2 separate regions of the Homo sapiens genome follow, and region 1 is linked to region 2. A link means that fine-mapping ties the variant in region 2 to the expression of a gene that starts in the linked region. Tissue or cell type: whole blood. Region 2 holds a variant in brackets; the other region holds the start of a gene. All regions are shown on one strand. Distances are between the middles of the regions. Region 1 holds the start of IGSF23 (immunoglobulin superfamily member 23). Region 2 has its middle 33 kb from the start of IGSF23.

The links.
Region 1: IGSF23 starts here. The variant in region 2 is fine-mapped to the expression of IGSF23 in whole blood (TOPMed, PIP 0.91).

The regions. Positions count from the first base shown.
Region 1 is chr19:44,611,665-44,616,053 of GRCh38, reverse strand. It overlaps IGSF23 (immunoglobulin superfamily member 23), which reads right to left and starts at 2,491. Exons shown (of 5, transcript NM_001205280.2): 1 at 2,284-2,491. The coding sequence starts at 2,408. RefSeq lists an enhancer at 578-1,079.
Region 2 is chr19:44,578,194-44,582,582 of GRCh38, reverse strand. No RefSeq gene overlaps it. Among named protein-coding and RNA genes, the nearest start is that of IGSF23, 33 kb to the left of the region's middle. RefSeq lists an enhancer at 3,755-4,286. The variant G/T (reference allele first, on the strand shown) is at 2,146.

The sequences.
Region 1 (4,389 bases), 33 kb before region 2:
GCACTGTGGCTTTGTTTTCCTTTGGACAATGTTTTGTAAGCTCCCCCAGCTCACTTTGCAAACATGTTGTAAACCACTTTCTAAAAACTGGTTGCTGTTTTATCCAGTGGCACAGCCAATTTCCAAAGTACCCCACCCTCCCGCCCCCAGGAAGATCCAGCAACACACAGCATGCCGTGTTTCCATCACAAAACTACAGCAGCCTAGGAGAAACTTTCCAATCTCCTTTTCTTTCCTTCCTCCCCTCTGCCCTCCGCCCTGAGAGAGGCCTCAGACAACAGCTCTGACAAAATAGGGAAGAGGCCCACCACGTCCCTTTCCTCCTTCCAGTGTGACACCTGCCTGAGCTGGGGACAGAGCAAAGCTTTGAACTAGGTGGACTTTGAGGTTTTAAAATTACATGGAACTGAACTTTTTTTTTTTTTTTTTAAAGATGGAGTTTCGCTCTTGTTGCTCAGGCTGGAGTGCAATGGCACCATCTCAGCTAACCGCAACCTCCGCCTCCTGGGTTCAAGCAATTCTCCTGCCTCAGCCTCCCAAGTAGCTGGGATTACAGGCATGCACCACCACGCCCAGCTAATTTTCTGTTTTTAGTAGAGACGGGGTTTCTCCATGTTGGTCAGGCTGGTCTTGAATTCCTGACCTCAGATGATCCGCCCGCCTTGGCCTCCCAAAGTGCTGGGATTACAGCACTTTGTAATCCCAGCCACTGCACCCGTGAGCCACTGCACCCGGCTCAGAACTGAACTTTATTTATTTATTTTTGAGACGGAGTCGTGCTCTGTCGCCCAGGCTGGAGTGCAGTGGCACGATCTTGGCTCACTGCAAGCTCCGCCTCCCGGGTTCACGCCATTCTCCTGCCTCAGCCTTCTGAGTAGCTGGGACTACAGGCGCCCGCCACCAGGCCTGGCTAATTTTTTGTATTTTTAGTAGAGACGGGGTTTCACCGTGTTAGCCAGGATGGTCTCGATCTCCTGACCTCGTGATCCGCCTGCCTCGGCCTCCCAAAGTGCTGGGATTACAGGTGTGAGTCACCGCGCCCAACTCAGAAGTGAACTTTTAAGACCTGGATAAGGAAGCAATTCATTCACTATCTGAGAGGCAGATGTGTGTGGTCTCTGGAAAGTGTGGTCTGGGAAGCCAGCCCATCTGGCTTCAAATCTTCAGTCTGCCACTTCCAAGTGTGTGACCTGGAGAGGGCACATGACCTCTCTGAACCTCAGTTTCCCCTTCTGTGAAATAGGGATCGTACAGCTCTGATCTCAAAGAGTTGTGATAAGAGGTAAATGTTACTATAGGAAAGCACTTAGAACGGGCTGACAGGCTGGGCGCAGTGGCTCACGCCTGTAATCCTGGCACTTGGGGAGGCCGAGGCAGGAGGATCGCTTGAGCCCAGGAGTTCGAGACTAGCCTGGGCAACATAGTAAGACCTCATCTCTACTAAAAATAAAAAATTAGCTGGGTTTGGTGGCGCATACCTATGGTCCCAGCTACGCAGGACGCTGAGGCAGGAGAACAGCTTCAGCCCAGCAGGTTGAAGCTGCAATGAGTCATTATCGGGCCACTGCACTGTAGCCTGGACAACAGAGCAAGACCTTGTCTCAAAACAAAACAAAACAAAAAAACAAAAACCCCAAACAGGCTGGTATATAGATCTATTCAGTTACAGTGACCTTCTATTACGGCTGTTATTATTTTATGATTGTTATTATTTATATGTATTATTACTAAGTTGCGGATTGCAGGGGTGAGACAGGGCATTCTGGTGGAAGGGGGCTGGGCTGGGGTCCCAAATTCTGATCCTGCCCCTTGCCAGCCCTGTGATCTTGGGTAGGTGACCTGTTCTCCTCTTTGCGCCTCACTTCCCTTCTTCCTAAAAGAAGCCAATAGGGTCATCTCTTGTGGCGGAGTGGCCTTCAAGAGTTCTCATGAGTTGGGTGCCTGAGCTGCATGGGCCTCAAACTGACAGGGTCAAAGCTCTGAGTGGGGGTGACTTGGACTCGTAAGGAGACACTCTCCTCCTTGTCCCTGGCCCGTGGTGAAGCCGCTGTCTCCAACGCACCTGTTAAAAGCAGCTTCCTCCAGGTAGGGGTGTGGCTGGAGCTGACGTCCAGAGGACCCCTCATCTCGTGTTCTGTCCAGGGACTGTGCAGAGAAGGTCTCCTCATCACACATGGGGTCTTCATAGACCTGTACAGTCGCGTCTGCAGCCCCGGCCTCACCCTGCAGGACCCTGCTCACGATGACCATGCCCTACCCTGGCCACTTCCCCACATGACTTACACCAAGTTGGCTGGGAAGTCACCTCCAGCCGCATCCTTCTCTAGCATCGGGTCAGTGGTGGTGGTGGGTGGGGACCAGGCTGGGACAGGGTTCCTGGGAAGGGGGCTCTGAGGTTTTGCTCTCATTCTCTCACCGTACAATCCCCGCCGGGAGATGGAGGGAGAAGCAGAATCGCCCGCTCCTATCACTCACATCAAAGGCAAGGAATGGCCAAAGGTCAACCTGGTAGGAGGTGACGGGGCTTTGGACTCTGAACCACAGCTTTTCTCCTCTGTAAAATGGAGGCGTTAATAATAGTGCCTGCCCCAGAGTCAGACAGGGCCGTGGACACAAGGTGCTTGGAGTAGTGCCTGGTCACGTAGTAGGCGCTCAACGAATGGCAGTCACTATGAAGTCAATGCTAATTATAATTTGGTGTCTAGGATGTCCTGGAGGCATGTTTAGAATCCCGTTATCAGGAGCTTGCTCAGACTATATCCTGAATTTTAGATTCTAGAAGGATAAGCTACACTAGCTACTTTTTCCTCACCCTTCTCACTCCCCAGGTCCATTCTTTCCTCCTCAAATTAATAATTATATTACTCAAACTAATAGCTGGTGTTTATTGAACACCTACTATATGCCGGACACAGCATTAACCTTGTAACAGGGTTGCCTAATTTGAATCCTCATAGCAACCTCGAGGGGTAGATATGAGCATCCCCATTTTCTCGTGGTGCACAGGGGCTAAGTAACTCACCTACCATCACACAACCGTTCACAGGGGCTTTCTGCCAGTTTTTGGAGGCACCAGCTCAGGGGCTTTGCATGAGCCGTTCCCTCTCCTTAGAACCTTACTCATGTAATCTCAAAGCTGACTGTATCTTATTATTTTGGCTTAATTCACACACATCACTCTATCAAAAAGGCCTTTCTTAATGCCTGCTGCAACTCAGTTCCCCACCTCTTTGCTAGCAAGCCACACTGTTTTGTTTTCTTTACATCATTTACCGCTATTTTAGATGATTTATTTATTTGTCCACTTGTATTATCTGTCTCTCCCTCCTTAGTCCCACCTCTCCGACTTGAATATCAGATCCAGGAGGGCAGGGATGTTGTCTGGCTTGTGGCTATGTCCCTAGTGACTAGAACAGTGCCTTGCATATAACAGGTGCTCAATACATGTTTTTGTTTTTGAGACGGGGTCTCACTCTGTCAGCCAGGCTGGAGTGCAGTGGCACGGTCATAGCTCACTGCAGCTTCAACCTTTTGGATTCAAGCAATAATCCTGCCTCAGTCTCCTGAGTAGCTGGGACTACAGTCTCACACTACCATTCCCAGCCAATTAAATTTTTTTTCTTTTTGTAGAAATAGAGTTTCACTATATTACCCAGGCTGGTCTCAAACTTCTGGGCTCAAGTGATCCTCCTGCCTCAGCCTCCCAGAGTGCTGGGATTACAGGCATGAACCACCTAGCCAGCCTACATGTTTTCTTTTTAGTGAATAAATGAATGAAGAGCAAGTGAGTGAAATGGGAGTGTTCAGACTTGAACTCAGATCTTTCTGACTTAGAAGCTCATGCTTTTCCCTCCCAGAGAGGTTCAGGTTCCACCCAGGGGCTAAGGTTCACCCATAAGTCTCTAATAATAGTCATTATCAGGTGACACAGTTATTTCTTTATTAGCATTTGCTAAAGTGCCTTTTTTATAGTTGGTCTGAAGGCCTCTGCTGGAGTGATTAGCTAGGTCAGGAGACCACTGTAGGAAAAAGTAAATATTTACGATGCAGTTAATAACCATTATGTTGTAAGGTTTCTGGGGTTTCTACCCAGCCAGTACTCTCTTGTATCCAGGTAACAGCACCTGGAGTTCTCTTTTGGAAACCAGCCTCCTCATGGCTCCAGGGAGGTGAGGGGCCCAGGACTGGCCAATCAGAGCACTTCATCCCCTGACAACAGTGATTTTTGGAGACCTGGGCGTGGCACTCAGAACAGGCCAAGGAGAAGCAATCTCTTACGGATTTTATTGGAACTCTGGGGAATAAAGCAATTTTTCTTTTTTCTGTTTTTAAATTTTTATTTATTTATTTAAAGACAGAGTCTTGCTGTGTTGCTCAAGCTGGAGTGCA
Region 2 (4,389 bases):
TTTTGAGATGGAGCTTTGCTCTTGTCACTCAGGCTGGAGTGCAGTGGTGCAATCTTGGCTCATTGCAACCTCCACTTCAAGCAATTCTCCTGCCTCAGCCTCCCAAGTAGCTGGGATTACAGGCATGCCAATACTAATTTTTGTATTTTTAGTAGAGACAGGATTTCACCATATTGGCCAGGCTGGGTCTCAAACTCCTGACCTCAGGTGATCCACCCACCTCAGCCTCCCATAGTGCTGGGATTACAGACATGAGCCACCCCGCCTGGCCCTTTGATTCTTATCTTTGAGATTTCTTCGTTAACTAAGGGAGGGGCATCAGTGGGGATGGCTATTACACTTTCTGTGGGTCTCATCAGTAAAATCCCTAAATCCAGGAGCAGTGTAATGCAGTGGTTAAGAATGCAGGCTTTGGCATTAGATGTGGGTCCAAATACCAACTCCTCCCCTTATAGGGTGTGTGGCTGGGGGGCTTTTTGAGCCTCTCTGTTCTAGCCTGATGGCCATGGGGATGGAAACTTGCACTTAATTTGGATTCAACTGCTCAGTGCAGGGTCTCACACATTCATTCACAAAATATTTATTGAACACCTACCATGTGCCAGGCACTGCGCTAGGCTTTGGGCATTTACAAGAGTGAACAAAACAGGCAGAGGGGCCAGGTACAGTCACTTGCACCTGTAGAATCACCTACTTGGGAGGCTAACGTGGGAGGATCGCTTGAGCCCAGGAGTTTAGGACCAGCTTGGGCAATATAGCAAGACCTCATCTCTAAAAAAATAAAATAGAATTAAAAAAACCAGGTAGAAATCCCTGCCTTTAAGGGACTGATATTAGGGAGAGCAATCAACAAACACAAATCAGTGGAGAGTGTCACACGGCGATGAGTGTGTTGGAAAGAAATAAACCAGACAGGTGGGACAGGAAGTGCTAGGCTGTACACAGGACAGCCAGGGAAGGCCTCTCTGAAGAGGTGACATCTGAACAGGGTCCTGACTGTGGTGAAGGAAAAAGCCATGTGGCTATCTTGGGAAGAGTGTTTGGGGCAGAAAGTAAAGCAAATGCAAAGGCCCTGGGGCAGGACTGTGCCCTGAGTGTTGATGAACAGTGGAGAGGCCAGTGTGGCTGGAGAGCGGGGAGTAAGGGAGGAAGCGGGAGATAAGGGTGGGGCAGGGATGGGGCCAGACCATGGACCTTGCAGGCCAGTGTTGGGACTTAGGCATTTTCCTGAGTGAGACAGAAGCCACAGGAAGCCTCTGAGCAGGCAAGGGACATGAGACAACTTAGGTGTTAGCAGGAGGGCAGGAGCAGGGAGCCCAGTGAGGAGGCTACTGCAATGGTCCATGTGGGAGATGGTGCTGGTGTGGGTGGAGCTGGTGAGAAGTGGTTGGATTCTGGAGAAATTTGAACGCTGAGCTCAGGATTTGCTGTTGCATCGGCAAAGCTGGTTTCTCAGTAAATACAAGTTTCCTTTTCTTTCCAATGAGCCTCCCTGAAGCTCCTGAAGATTTTCATTTCCTGTCTCCCACCTGAGTCTTCAGACTGGGCCAGATATGCAGGATGAGACTTCTGGCTGAGGCTTGAGCCAAAGACTGGAATCCAGTCAGGGCCAGATTTCAGACTCCTTGTATGGTCCTGGGGGGATCACTTGCTCTCCTGGGGCCTCTGTTTCCCCATTTATACAGCAGGAAGCCAGGAGGGGAGCATGCAGTCCCCTGCCCTCCCACGTTTGCCTACCATGAGGATGATTGGGAAGAGCAAAGGGCACGAATGCTGGGCCAGAGACATGACCAAAGAGGAGAAGTTAATGAGACATTGAACAGTTGTAAACCGAAGAGGGCTGTGCCAGTCCCTCCCTGGCTGGCCACCAATGCCCCATGGGCACGGCCCTCATCATGGGGACAGAAGGCTGGGCCATCTCCTCTCTGGGCTAGGGCTCCGGGCAGGACACACAAATCGGCTCACTCTGGGGTTCTTGCAGTCTGTTCTCCGCAAACCAATGTCCTTCTAGGAGGAAGCACTCCTAAAGGACCCATGGCCCGGTTCCTGGTTGCTCCCCATGGCTGGGGTGAGCCCTGGATGGGAGCGTTGCTCGTAGGTGAGGGTGTGGCTGAGAACTGAGGTTGGGGAGGGCATTTCTCAGAG[G/T]TTATATCAGAGCTCTAGTCTTGGCTGGTCCCATTTCCAGCTTCCCAGAGCCTGCGTACCTGACAAATGTGCATTGTCCCAGACTCACTCTATTAAACAATCATGTCTTAAAGGGGAAGTTGCAGGGCAGGGAATCTTTGAGTAGGACAAGCCAAATTAATTTCTTGCTCCACCTCTGTCATCTGTGTGATCTGAGGTAAGTCACTTGACCTCTCTGATTAATTTCCTTATTTGCAAAATGGGGCAATGATTGTACTTCCCCTTCGGGCTGCTATGAAAATCAAAGAAACCCCATTTTGAGAGCCTGGAAAATAGTAGGCAGGAGGCTTTAGGCGATGATGAACAGAAATGATGAAACGATAAAGAAGGTAGGAAAATAGGATAGTCCCGTAACTGATGATACTCTCTGATACTTACCGAGCACTGAGGATGGGCCAGGCCCTGCTCCAGGAGCTTGACATAAACAGTCTAGTCCTCTCAGCTCCTCTACAAGGGGGCACTGTGAATTAATCTGCTTTGCATTGCTATAAAGGAAAACCTAAGGCTGGGTAATTTACAAAGAAAAGAGGTTTATTAGGCTCATGGTTCTGCAGACTGTACAAGCATGGCAGCATCTGCTCAGCTCATAATGAGGCTTCAGGAAGCCTATCATCATGGCAGAAGGTGAAGGGGAAGCTGAGTATCACCTAGTGAAAGAGAGGCAAGAGAGATACCAGGCTCTTTTTTTTTTGAGATGGAATTTCACTCTTGTTGCCTAGGGTGGAGTGTGATGGCACAATCTCGGCTCGCTGCAACCTCTGCCTCCCCGGTTCGAGTGATTCTTCTGCCTTAGCCGCCCAAGTAGCCAGGATTACAGGTGCCCACCACCAGGCCAAACTACTTTTTTGTATTTTTAGTAGAGATGGGGTTTCACCATGTTGGCTAGGCTGGTCTTGATCACCTCAGGTGATCTGCCCACCTTGGCCTCCCAAAGTGCTGGGATTATAGGCATGAGCCACTGTGCCCAGCCTTTATTTTTTTATTATTTATTATTATTTTTTTGAGATAGGGTCTCACTCTGTCACCCAGGCTGGAGTGCAGTGGTGCAGGCTTGGCTCACTGCAACCTCTGCCTCCCAGGCTCAGGTGATCCTCCTGCCTCAGCCTCCCAAGTAGCTGGGACTACATGTGTATGCCACCATGCCTGCCTAATTTTTGTAGAGACAGGGTTTCACCATGTTGCTCAGGCTGGTCTCGAACTCCTGGGCTCAAGTGATTCTCCTGCTCCAGCCTCCCAAAGTGCTGGGATTACAGGCATAAGTCACTGCACCCGGCCTGCCAGGTTCTTTTAAACAACCAGCTTTTGCATGAATGAACAGAGCGTGAATGCCTTCATTACCGCAAAGATGGCGCCAAAGCCTCATGAGGGATTGCCCCATGACCCAAAAACCTCCCACTAGGCCCACATCCATCATTGGGGATCACATTTCAACATGAGATTTGGAGGGGACAAACATCCAAACGATATGACACTGTTACTATGGGCCCCATTTTCCAGATGAGGATGGAGGCCCAGAGGCAGCACCGTATAGTCGCCGATGCCATGGATTCAGATTTGGCTCTGCAATTTGCACTGTGTGAACTTCAACAAGCCATTTAAACTCTCAAGGCCTCAGTCTCCTCATCTGCAAAATGGGTAGCTCTAACCCCTGCCTCACAGGGTTGTTGGGAGGTTCAATGAATTGCCATTTGTAAAGCACACAGAACAGTTCCCGGCACACAGCAAACGATTAATAAGTGTTTAAGAGAAAACAGGCCAGGTATGGTGGCTCGAGCCTGTAATCCCAGCACTTTGGGAGGCTGAGGTGGGCAGATCACCTCAGGTCAGGAGTTCGAGACTAGTCTGGCCAACATGGTGAACCTTGTCTCTACTAAGAATACAAAAAATTAGCCGAGTGTGGTGGTGTGCACCCATAGTTCCAGCTACTTGGTAGGCTGAGGCACGAGAATCACTTGAACCTGGGGGGCGGAGGCTGCAGTGAGCCGAGATCACACCACTGCACTCCAGCCTGGGCAACAGAGTGAGACTCTGTCTCAAAAGACAGAGAGAGAGAGAGAGAGAAGGAGAGAGAGAGAGAGAGAGAGAGAGAGAGAGAGAGAGAGAGAGAATAGCCAGAGATGTGGGTAAATTGCCCAGAGTCACAGAGTCACATAGCCATGTAAAGCAGGTGTTAGAATCAGAGACTGGCTCTGGAATCTTCCCTGT